Homo sapiens: one gene and its partners. The protein of the gene in region 3 purifies or fractionates together with the protein of the main gene of each other region. This does not show direct contact. Each region holds a gene or a part of one and is shown on either strand. Other genes may lie near its edges.

Region 1 (3,651 bases), on a different chromosome or scaffold from region 3:
TGCATGCTGTCTATGGGCCAACCTAGTTTCTAGGACTTTGCTCACATCAGCTCCAAAGGCAGGTGCTGTTATCCCTTCCTTTTCTTCCTTTTAAACAGATGGGAAACTGAAGCACAGGCAATTAAGGAACTCGCCCAAGTGTACATAGCAAGTGACAGACTGGGATTTAAACCCAGGTCATCTCACATGAGGGCCTATGCTCTGCTTCTTCATACTATACGAGGAGTTGGCAAATTTGTTCTTAAAAGGCCAGACAGTAAATATTTTAGGTTTTACTGACCATGAGACAAAATCAAGCATCTTATGTAGGTACTTATTAAACTATTTGAAATGAGTTATATACAAATATTGCTCAGAGCCTGACAAGAACAGACAGCAGGCTGGATTTGGTCAATCCCTGAATGATACCAGTTATTGCTTCCTGGGCCCAGGATGAAAACTTGGGAACTTCCACCAACCCCAAAAGAGAAATCAGCCATCAGCTGCTCTCACACCACACTCTATTCTATTGTGGAACCCAACCCTACTATAGGATCAAGAGTGTCAGTGATTCAATGGCAAAGGAGTTTAATTACCTTCTTTAAGGGCCAGCACCCAGCGCTGCCGGCTCTCACGATCTGGAGCAAACACATATAGGAGGTAGTTGTCATGCACCACCTGGAGACACACACACAGAGTTCAAGGTGAGCAGCGTGCATGGAGATAGTTGACTGACAGCAGACCTACTGAGCCGAGAGTGGGGTCTCGGGTGTTTATCGTCATATAGGCAAACATTTGGGTAATTAGGGGGCCAGTATCCTTTTTATCCAGGTGTTTGGGTGCTACAAAAACACAGGGTAAGCAGTTTCAGCTGCTCGTCTCAGATTCCATGCCCCAAGAGAGCAATCACTAAACTAAGACAGCAGGAGAAAGTTCTCCTCTTGACTAGAAACCACATTTATTTCTCATCTTAAGTTTTTAGTGATTAAAAAAATATTTCTGGCACATGGAAGAGAAAGATATTATATGACAAATGTGCAATGAGAGTTTTGAAAACTTCTTATTTTGAAATAGTTTAAGACTCACAAGAAGTTCCAGAAATAGTACAGAGTTCCTGTGTACTTTTCACCTACTTTTCTCCACTGATGACATCTTACGTAACCACAACACATCTTTCAAAACTCACTCATAGGTGGGAATTGAACAATGAGATCACATGGACACAGGAAGGGGAATATCACACTCTGGGGACTGTGGTGGGGTGGGGGGAGGGGGGAGGGATAGCATTGGGAGATATACCCAATGCTAGATGACGAGTTAGTGGGTGCAGCGCACCAGCACGGCACATGTATACATATGTAACTAACCTGCACAATGTGCACATGTACCCTAAAACTTAAAGTATAATAAAAAAAAATTAAAAAAAAAAAAAACCAAGAGATTGTCATTGGTACAATACTGTTAACTAAACTGCAGTCTTCTTTATATTTCACCTCTCTTTTAGGCACTCATTATCATTGAGATTTTGAACAACTGAAAAATACATGCTATTCCTTTTATTTTCAGTCCTCAAAATTCCAACTCATGAGGGTCACTTTTCTAGTAGAAAAAAAGTTCTTTTCTATGCCATGTTAAAAATATGTTCATCCCTCAGGTTGGCAAGCAGGAATGGTACCCTGGGATGTGCAAGGAGATATCCATGCCTTTGAAGCCAGAAGTGCCAAGATTCATATACAAGGACTTTAAAGATACCCTCCACCAGCTCTGTTCAGTAGAACTTTGGGAGGCCGAGGCGGGTCGATCACGAGGTCAGGAGTTTGAGACTAGTCTGACCAACATGGTGAAACCCCATCTCTACTAAAAATACAAAAATTAGCCGGGAGTGTTGGCACACGCCCGTAGTCCCAGCTATTCAGTAGGCTGAGGCAGGAGAATCACTTGAACCAGGGAGGTGGAGGTTGCAGTGAGCCGGGATTGCGCCACTGCACTCCAGCCTGGGTGACAGAGTGAGACTCTGTCTCAAAAAAAAAAAAAAAATTTCTGCAGTGATAGGAACATTCTATAACCAGTGCTGTTTCAGTACAGTAGCTGCCAGCCATGTCCTGCTATTGAACATGTGAAATGTGCCCAATGTGACTAAGAAGCTGAATTTTTAATATCGTTTAATACATTTAAATGTGAACATCCATGTGTGGCTAGTGGCTACTGTACTAGACAGTGCGATTCCAGATAGTCCTCAGATTATAAAATCTGAATCTTTTTGCCTCAGAATCTCCAAGCAATTCATACCCAGCAATTGCAATATGTTGCCTCAAATCATGAGTAAACTGCACTTAAAGCACATTAGGTTTCAGGCCGCTGATAGCAGCTTTATTTCTTCCTTCACTAATTAGGACTTTCCTTGAGGAAGAGAAGACATGAGGGAAAGGGGTATAAGGAATAACCACCTTTTCAAGATTTTGTGCTTAATTTTTGTTCAATAAGTGAAAGAATTAACAAATAAATGTCACTGATGGAAGGAACACATACGTTTCCTAATGGGATTTGTCTAAGTCCTAACCTTGGAGCAGAGAGGCAGAGAGTCATCCGTGTCCACCCTCTCTCACAGTGACTGAGGATTTTTTTTTTTTTTTTTTGACGGAGTCTCACTCTGTTGCCTGGGCTGGAGTGAATGGCACGATCTTGGCTCACTGAAAACTCTGCCTCCTGGGTTCAAACAATTCTCCTGTCTCAGCCTCCCGAGTAGCTGGGATAACAGGCGCCCGCCAGTACGCCCAGCTAATTTTTTGTATTTTTAGTAGAGATGGGGTTTCATGTTGGCCAGGCTGGTCTTGAACTCCTGACCTCGTGATCTGCCTGCCTCAACCTCCCAAAGTGCTAGGATTACAGGCTTGAACCACTGCACCCGGCTGTGACTGAAGATTTTAACCACAGTCCAGGGAATGGGGAACTACCCACCTGATGGACTTACCTGAAACGGGTATTTATAGTGGCATGGGATGCTGATGTCACTTTTCACAATCTCAACACATTTGATTCGGGAGAGCTCAATGGACCCCTTCAGCGTGCGCTTCTTCTGTGGGGAGAGAAGAACATCCCATTCATGTAAGAAAGAAGACAATATTTTTGTCCAGATTGCTCCAGAAATCTACTGCTAGATAAGATCCATTGGCTTTTTAAACCTATTCCAACCCTCCAAACCAAATATCCAAAACTGCCTCCTGGCCCTAAGTGTGGGATAAACACTCTGAGCAGACTCCTGGGGACACATGCCTTTAGAGTCTTCTTCTTGGTGACAGGTTTCCACTCAGTGAGACACGGGGTCATGTACCCCACTGCCCTTGTGACAAATGGCAGCATTGGCAGAACTTGTAGCTGAGATGCGTAGAGAAATCCATGGACACACATATGACAATTTTCTCTTCTCTGTGTCTATCCATGACCATATTAGCATAGTAATTGAGCTCGGACCCGACCTGGATTGTGGTGCATACCCTTAGTGGCACCTTTTTTTTTCTGCCTCTGGCTTCTCCATGTCCTTTAATTATCCGCAGTCCCACAATGACACTCCCAAAGGACATTCCTGACTCTGATCTATAACTATCCCTTCTCCATGTCCTCCCCAACCTCCCCATCAAATACTACTGGGCCTGTGTCTCATTTCCTTGGAAA
Region 2 (3,651 bases), on a different chromosome or scaffold from region 3:
GCCGCTCCCCAGCGGGCAGGGAAAGGGGGCCCCCTTCAGACACCCCCGAGTCTCTAGTTGGAAGGCTGCTTGTTTTGGGGCTCTGCCCACCACAGCTTCCACAAGTGGAGGGGCGGCCGAGCTGTTGTGCAGCAGAGTGTGAGCTGGCCTGCCACTCGGGGCAGCAGCGCCTGTCCGGAAGGCTTCTGGCCTCTGTCCATGTTCTGGCCGGGGTAGAAATAGGGACATGATTTCAAGTGAAGAGCGGACAGTTTTCTCAGGACAAACAGGTCTGGCTCTCGGCTTTTTGCTCATGGATCCCAGTTCTGTGGGGTGAGAAGGAAACGTGTTAGAGGAAGACACCGCAGAGGTGATGCAGGGAGGTCGGGGACAGGACCCATGCTCTGGGCTCCATCTTGGGGACGGCTGCTGTCCTGAGCCAGGGGCTCCTTCTGCCCGCTGGCAGGTTGGCAGCTCTAGAGGGGTGTGACTCCATCACGGAGCTCTTAGGGACTCTGCCTGTGTGGCCTTCCGAATGGAGTTTAAGAGTTGATTGTTAAAGTTCATGATTGCTCTGCTCTAATTGTCAAATCAGCTCGTATAACCTAAACAGCTGACGTTTGTCTTTCCCTTTACAAGAATCAAGATGCTGGGGGTCCCCTATTCATGTATGGGCAGGGTGGGACTGAGGGGAGGCATTGAGTGGCTGCTGCTCACCCCCAGGACTGTGGGGGACCCTGGGGTGCTGGGGTCAGGCTGGAGACGGGCTCACCTTTACAGCCTCTGAGCCCCATGCAGATCATAGTCACTGTCGGAGGAGTTGTCAGGCTGCATGGAGGAGCGATGCAGAGCCCCTTCCAGAGCTGGGGAAAGAAAGGACGCTGTTTGCAGAGGGTTTTTGACTCCACAGAGCCCCTTGGATCCTAGAGCCGCTGCCCACAGTGGGTTGGAAGATCACAGGGGCTTTATGAGCCGGTGACAACCCCTTATCTGTTTTGATCAAATCAGCCAAACGTTCACTAATGATGCTGAACTCCAGGCTCCCTGGGGCTTAATTGGTAGTGCCAGTCTGGGAGCCTTTAGTACAGCGCTCCTGCAGCCCACTTAATGGCTCTCTTCTAGCCCGGAGGAATCCAAGGGGCCTCATTTACCATCCAGGCCCCTCAAGGCCCTGAAGGGAAACAGGCCCATTAGGTCACAGCAAGGCTGGGGTTGATGGCTTTCTGAGTGCATTCTTCTCTCCAGATGAGTAGTTTGTGGTCTCAAACGGGACAGCTGGGGCCTGCAAAGGCTATATCCCTTCCGTACCCCTGCTGCATCCTGCGATGTTTGATCCCCTTGCACCCTGGGGTCTCCATTCTGTCTTTGGGCCATCACCCGACCTTCAAGGGCATCACGTGACCTGCCTTGGCGGCCTGCTGCAGCCCTGCCTGCGTGCCTGGGAGCACCCGCTGGTGCTTACCTGGATAAGCTGACAGGTGGGAGTTCCTGGGAGGTTGGCTGTATTCGTTATCCACGTGGGAGGCTGTGGGGTTCTCAGCATGGGATCGGACGGTTGCCGTGTGGTTGCGATGGAAAGACACTGGGCAGATGGTAGGAGACAGTGTCAGACTTGTGGCTGTGTCCTCCGTCTCCTTCCCCAGCAGGTGCCCAGAACTTTAATCTCCTATTCCCATGATGTTAGCGGGGAGAGGACAAAGGCACCCACAGCCCCTTCAATGCATCCCCCTCTCCTTTCTTCCTGGGAGGTTCATGCTAGCAGGATCAGCAGCAGACTTTTAGAGCAGGTTTGGGTAACCCAGCAATCTGACTGGCAGGGTGGGGCCTTCCGTGAGTCGGTCATCAAGCATTTACCAAGCAGGAGACTGGAGCACAGGTGACGGGACAGATCTGCTCCCTGCCCTCCAGGAGCTGAGGGCCTGTATGTTATTAAGAAAGTTTCCAGAGCCTTTCTTAATAACAAATTCAACAGAGCCCTCTTGAAGGATTTGGCTGTGGACTTGGGAAGGGGGAAGAAGGCAGAATGGGAGGCAGGAAGAGCGCCATGTCTCCATCCATTAGGGTGTCTCTGACTGTGGCTGGAAGGAGGGAGGATGAAGACCAGGGATGGTGTTGGGCTGGCTGCACCAAAATGTCCTAATACTGGCCCTGTAAGTTGTTCCATGATGAAAATAACTTGGACAGCCCTTCTTAATGGATCCTTGCTTTGGAGATGGGCAATACAAAAATGCCCATTAAGGTTCTGATAAGTCCTGAAATAGCTATGCTTAGCTGTGCCTAACTCATGGTTTTCCAGATCTGTTGATCAGGGAGGCCTCTTGTGAGTGCTGCCTGTTAACATCCACTGGCTACTGTGTTGGGGAATACTGCTGGAGGAGGTGAGGGCTGCTGGGGACCCTAGAGATGGGGCGAGGGACAGAAAGGATACCATGAGATGTTTCTACACTCTGAGGCTTCAGCGGTAGAAACCGCTCAGCCATCAGCCCATCAAGAAGCCTCCGCCCTCCCTGGTGTGGGGACGTCTGTTGGCCACAGTCACATGTCAGACAAGCACCGTGGAGATCAGAGGCTTCAAGCAGCCACAGGCTCCGTCTGTGGTCAGCAGAGAGCCTCGACTCTGCCTCCATGGCCTCTGTCCAGGGCCTGAGGGAGGCTCCTGCCTCCGGGGACACTTACTGTTTTGGTTCATTCCCGTTGGGCCAATCCACTGGCGCTGCTTCTTCTGGCGGACTGGGCAAGAGACAAGAAAGGCACATCAGAGTGGTGGGGGCAGGTATGGGTGGGGGCAGGCAGGGGTGGGGATGGGGCTGGGCCTGGGAGGGAGATGGTGGCGGCAGGTGCAGCTGAGGGCAGGGCTGCTGGGCTCTGCCCCCTGGAGTCTCTCGTAGGCCTCAGTTTCCTAACTTGCTCGGGAAGGGAATTGCAGCCATCCTGTGCCGAAGGAGCAGGCCGAGGATGGTGTAGAGGTGCCCGGCTCCCCAGGAGAAAAGACCACAGGCGTTTAGAACTAGACCTGGGCAGGCACTAGGACCTAACACTGTCCTGCTGGGCCCTCTGTTCCCAATCTCTCCCCTCTCACTTCTTTGTCTGAATAATTTCCTCTTAAGTTCTGCAAGGCAAGGAGAACAACCCCCCGCGTTCACAAGGTGTGCGATTGCCCATTTGGTAGATGAAGAAACTGAGGGTCAGAGAGAGGAAGTGTCCCAATCAGCATCTTGGGCAGTGGTAAGTGGTGGGGCTAGGCCTGGGATGTGTGTCTCCTACCATCAGAGGCTGTACTGAACACCCTCTGGGCCTGCCACAGCCTTGGGAATGGCCACACCTTCTCTCTGACCTGGAGTGGGTCTCAGCTGGGCTCCAGAGATGGACAAATCAGCAATTGCAATTTTGTTTACTTTGTGTTTCTGTTACTTGGGGCAGAAAATGGCTAATGGGCAGGAGAGGGGAAGGCTGGGTGGTGAAGCAGAGGTGTCCTGCGTGCCCAGCTCTCTGGAGGCATGACCCCTCCTCCGGAGGACTCTAGTGCAGCCCCTCCAGTCTCTGCACGTGGGAACGGAGCCACTCAGGGCCGTGACACCTACATTTCTTCACTAGCTTCTTGTAGGCAAGGGGGCCGCACACGACCAGCAGCACCACCAGGAGCACCAGGGCCAGGATGATGCTTGCCACCGT
Region 3 (3,651 bases):
CCTCTCTGGAAAATGGGGCTTTGCATGAGATACTCTCTACAGCTCCTCCTTCTTCAGTTTTGCAATTCTTTCTCCTAGAAGAGGATCTTTAAAATTTCTTGTGGTCAAATTGTGCTCAGTGGGAGGACTCCCAGGATGGAAAACCATAGAACACCACCTCCCCTGATGCTTCCCTTGAAGGTTTCCAGGAGGAAGAGATATGCTTTCATGCCTCATCCTGAGCCAGGGCTGCCTCCCAGCATGAGCACCTGTGACCTGGAGCAGCATGCCTCTGCCTACTGAGGGCCTGGCAGGCTGTGTTTGTGAAGTGATGCCCGCCACGCACCTGGACAGCTGACAGGCTCGACACTGGATTCCTTGCTGACTTTGTTCCCTGCTGTGCACTTGAATTTTGCACTCAGGCTGGTGGTCCACTTGTGTGTGATGACCCTCTGAGAAAGTTTTAGATGTTTCCCATCTTGATACAGGTTTAATTCGGGGTCAGTTCCATTCATTACCTCACAGGTCAGGGTTGTGTTGATACAAGTCCAGGAGATCTTTGGTTTTGAGACCCTCTCTAAAAAGAAAGTAAAGATTCAGTTCAATTTAGGCAATTTTCTGATTTTAATAAACATATCTATTTATACAGTGGGGGATGGAGTCAGTTAGGGACAAGGGAACAATGTCAAAGACCTCTAGCAACTTTTGGAAATTATTTTATTTTATTTTATTTACAAAGAGCATTCAGAAAAAAATTATTTCTGATGACATTCACAGATACATTATGCCACTAAATAGTGTATCATATGTAATGTTTATATGCTGTCTTATACCTTAAAATGCTTTCACATATATGACATCACTTAACCCTAACAGACAGGCTGATGTTTTTCTTCCCATTTACAGACAAAATGTTCAAGGCTCTGAGAGGTCCAGTAGGTGGTCTTGGGGCACCACCTAAAACATGGCAGTCAGGGTTTAGGAGTATGGGTAAGAAAGTGCCTCCAGAGTTTGAGAAAGGCAATGCTTTAACAGCAGCCAGGAACCCCATCCTGGAGGAATCACCACATTGACATGTGACTGGGGACCTTGGATACCTCTGCCCCCACCAAGTTCCTGGAGCAGTGGGCCAGGTGGGTATATGTGAGTGTGTGGGTGTCCAAGGAGCTCAAAGCTCTAGGGAAAAAGAGCACCTGCCTGGGAACCAGAGACTTGATTCTGCCTTTTCCCAGCCCAGAGCTGCTCAGTTGCTCACAGGGTCTACGCTGGCCCTCCTCAGAGCATCAGAAAAGGATCAGAAAAACATACCCTACCTGTCACAAAAGGAGCAACATGTGGCAAAGCCCTGGGCAGATCGTTAGGCACTGACATTATTAGTGGTAATTCATGCATTCGATAATCACAAACCTCTTGCCTCTCCCGCACAGAGATTGCACCACAAAAGGAAAATGCCTAGGCCTAGCATTAGATGGCTCAGGTCTACATCTTAGCCCCATCACTTCCTAGCTGTGTGAACTTTTCCTTTTCCTCGTCTTCTGTTTTTTTTTTTTCTCATTCTTTACTTTGTTCCCCCCAGACTTGCCACTTTTCCCTCTCAGTTTCTCTCCATTCATAATATAGATGGACTAGCTTATTTTTCAATGATTCCCTCCCACTCTGACTTCCAGACACCAATATTTTCCCCATGGAACACCATAGTCAAACTTCATTTATGTCCCGATATATATAGGCATGCAGAAATTAAATTAAAAGTTTTCTTCTCATCCCAAGATTCTGCGTTACTGAGAAGGAAGAAAATGGAAATTATCAACATTCAGCAACAGAGTTAGTACATAGTCTAGAGGTTGGGTCACGAAGTTTGCCCGTCTCTTCAGAATGGAAATATTTTTTTTCTACTTATAACAGCAACACAGTAACATGATTGTGGTGATGGTTGCAAAACTCTGAATATACTAAAGGCCGTTTTAGTGTATGGACAAATTGAATGATAGGTGAATTATCTCAATGAAGCTGTTTAGAAAAAAAAGAAAAGGTCATCATCCTTGCCAAAAAGACCTCTGAGTTTGAATCCTGACTTTGCTCCTGTCAAGCAATGAGACCTTGGACAAGCTGCTTCTGACTAGGTCTCTGTTTTCTTATATATAACAAGGAGATAATAACAACTAGGTCTCAGTATTGTTGGGCGCTTTAAATAAGATCATGTAAGCAAGCACTTGACCCCTAACTGGTAGCCATTATTTCCGCCGCAATGCTAAATGTGACCCAAATGTGAAAACACCAACATGGTCCCCCATGTAGGGCTCACACTCAAAACAGGACACTCGAGTTCTGTGCTGTTTGGAGTCCTGAGATCTGTGGTTTCCAGAGCCCATAATCAGAGGCTCTTTTCAGCGCCATGCTCAACCCCACTACATTTCTACAAGGTGCTCTCCACTCAAGGTTGCAGGACTAGGGTGTGGAAAGTTGTCACTTCAGGGGAGCTGACAGTGTCTGGGATTGCTGGAGTGGGCAATCTGACACTATCTGGGATTGCTGGTAGGCCCAGGTGCTGAAGATGGGGCTGGAGACAGAGAGGAAGAAGGTGGGGTCCCTGCTTCTGGCGACATTTTCTGTGTGAAGCACAGAAATGCTTATTTGCTCACTGAATGGCTGGCCTGTGCTCATGCTGGGGTTCCTGTCTTCCTCCCCAAGCCAGCTTCCTCTTTTCCCTTCTTATCACTCCCTGCCCAGCATCCGTGGGCTTTCAACTCCAATCATTGTACAAGCTGATAAAATATTTTTAAAAGTTTAAAGCAGATTAAAAATTACCCACAACGCCACCACTCAAAGTCAATAATGAATAATATTTTCATGTATATCTTTAGCAGATATTTTCTATTTATATGTATATATATAAATAATATAATATTTCAGCTGGGAGAGGTGGCTCATGCCTGTAATCCAGCACTTTGGGAGGCTAAGGTGGGCGGATCTCTTGAGGCCAGGAGTTCAAGAGTAGCCTGGCCAACATGGTGAAATACATCTCTACTAAAAATATGAAGATTAGCCAGGTGTGTTGGCATGCGCCTCTAATCCAAACTACTCAGGAGGCTGAGGCATGAGAATTGCTTGAACCCAAGAGGCAGAGGCTGCAGTGAGCCAATATTTCACCACTGCACTCCAGGCTGGACGACAGAGTGAGACCCTGTCTCTTTCTGTCTGCCTCTCTCTCTCTCTCTCTCTCTCTATATATATATATGTAATATTTTAAAAATTAAAACTAATTTATGTGATCTTACAGTCTGCCTTTTCCCCTTTATTGTGAAATTATATTATGAAGTTCTTTTCTTAATGAACATCAATAAATGCATATATGCATCTTTTTAAAGGATGCATTCTTAATTTAACTGATTAATAAGTTTCTAACTGCTGACTGTTCTAGTATTTCGCTAACATGAATAATGCAGTGATGGGCACCCTTGTGGAGTAGTACCTCCGTATACATTCACTAAGATAGCGTCTTAGAACTGATCCAACCTAAGGCCTTCCATGGATGAGAACTCCTTAATTCTGAGTTGCTGGGATTAACCCCTTCCCTACTAGCATCTGCTTCTAAGGGGCCCTCCATTGCCTCTTCAGCCTGCAGCAGCAACTCCCTCATGAAGGAAATGCAGGCACAACTACTGGAGTTTG

Evidence for each region.
Region 1: the proteins of CD2 (region 3) and ITK purify together in Homo sapiens (affinity purification with western blotting, with the first as the bait; one study listed by BioGRID). This does not show direct contact.
Region 2: the proteins of CD2 (region 3) and CD5 purify together in Homo sapiens (affinity purification with western blotting, with the first as the bait; one study listed by BioGRID). This does not show direct contact.

The regions. Positions count from the first base shown.
Region 1 is NC_000005.10:157,208,293-157,211,943, reverse strand, and holds part of ITK (tyrosine-protein kinase ITK/TSK), read right to left. Parts: intron 3,056-3,651; coding exon 2,951-3,055; intron 658-2,950; coding exon 576-657; intron 1-575. UniProt on the Homo sapiens protein: Tyrosine kinase that plays an essential role in regulation of the adaptive immune response. Regulates the development, function and differentiation of conventional T-cells and nonconventional NKT-cells.
Region 2 is NC_000011.10:61,122,942-61,126,592, reverse strand, and holds part of CD5 (T-cell surface glycoprotein CD5 isoform 1 precursor), read right to left. Parts: coding exon 3,561-3,651; intron 2,710-3,560; coding exon 2,656-2,709; intron 1,562-2,655; coding exon 1,442-1,561; intron 843-1,441; coding exon 754-842; 3' UTR 752-753; intron 306-751; 3' UTR 1-305. UniProt on the Homo sapiens protein: Lymphoid-specific receptor expressed by all T-cells and in a subset of B-cells known as B1a cells. Plays a role in the regulation of TCR and BCR signaling, thymocyte selection, T-cell effector differentiation and immune tolerance.
Region 3 is NC_000001.11:116,757,307-116,760,957, reverse strand, and holds part of CD2 (T-cell surface antigen CD2 isoform 2 precursor), read right to left. Parts: intron 557-3,651; coding exon 326-556; intron 1-325. UniProt on the Homo sapiens protein: CD2 interacts with lymphocyte function-associated antigen CD58 (LFA-3) and CD48/BCM1 to mediate adhesion between T-cells and other cell types. CD2 is implicated in the triggering of T-cells, the cytoplasmic domain is implicated in the signaling function.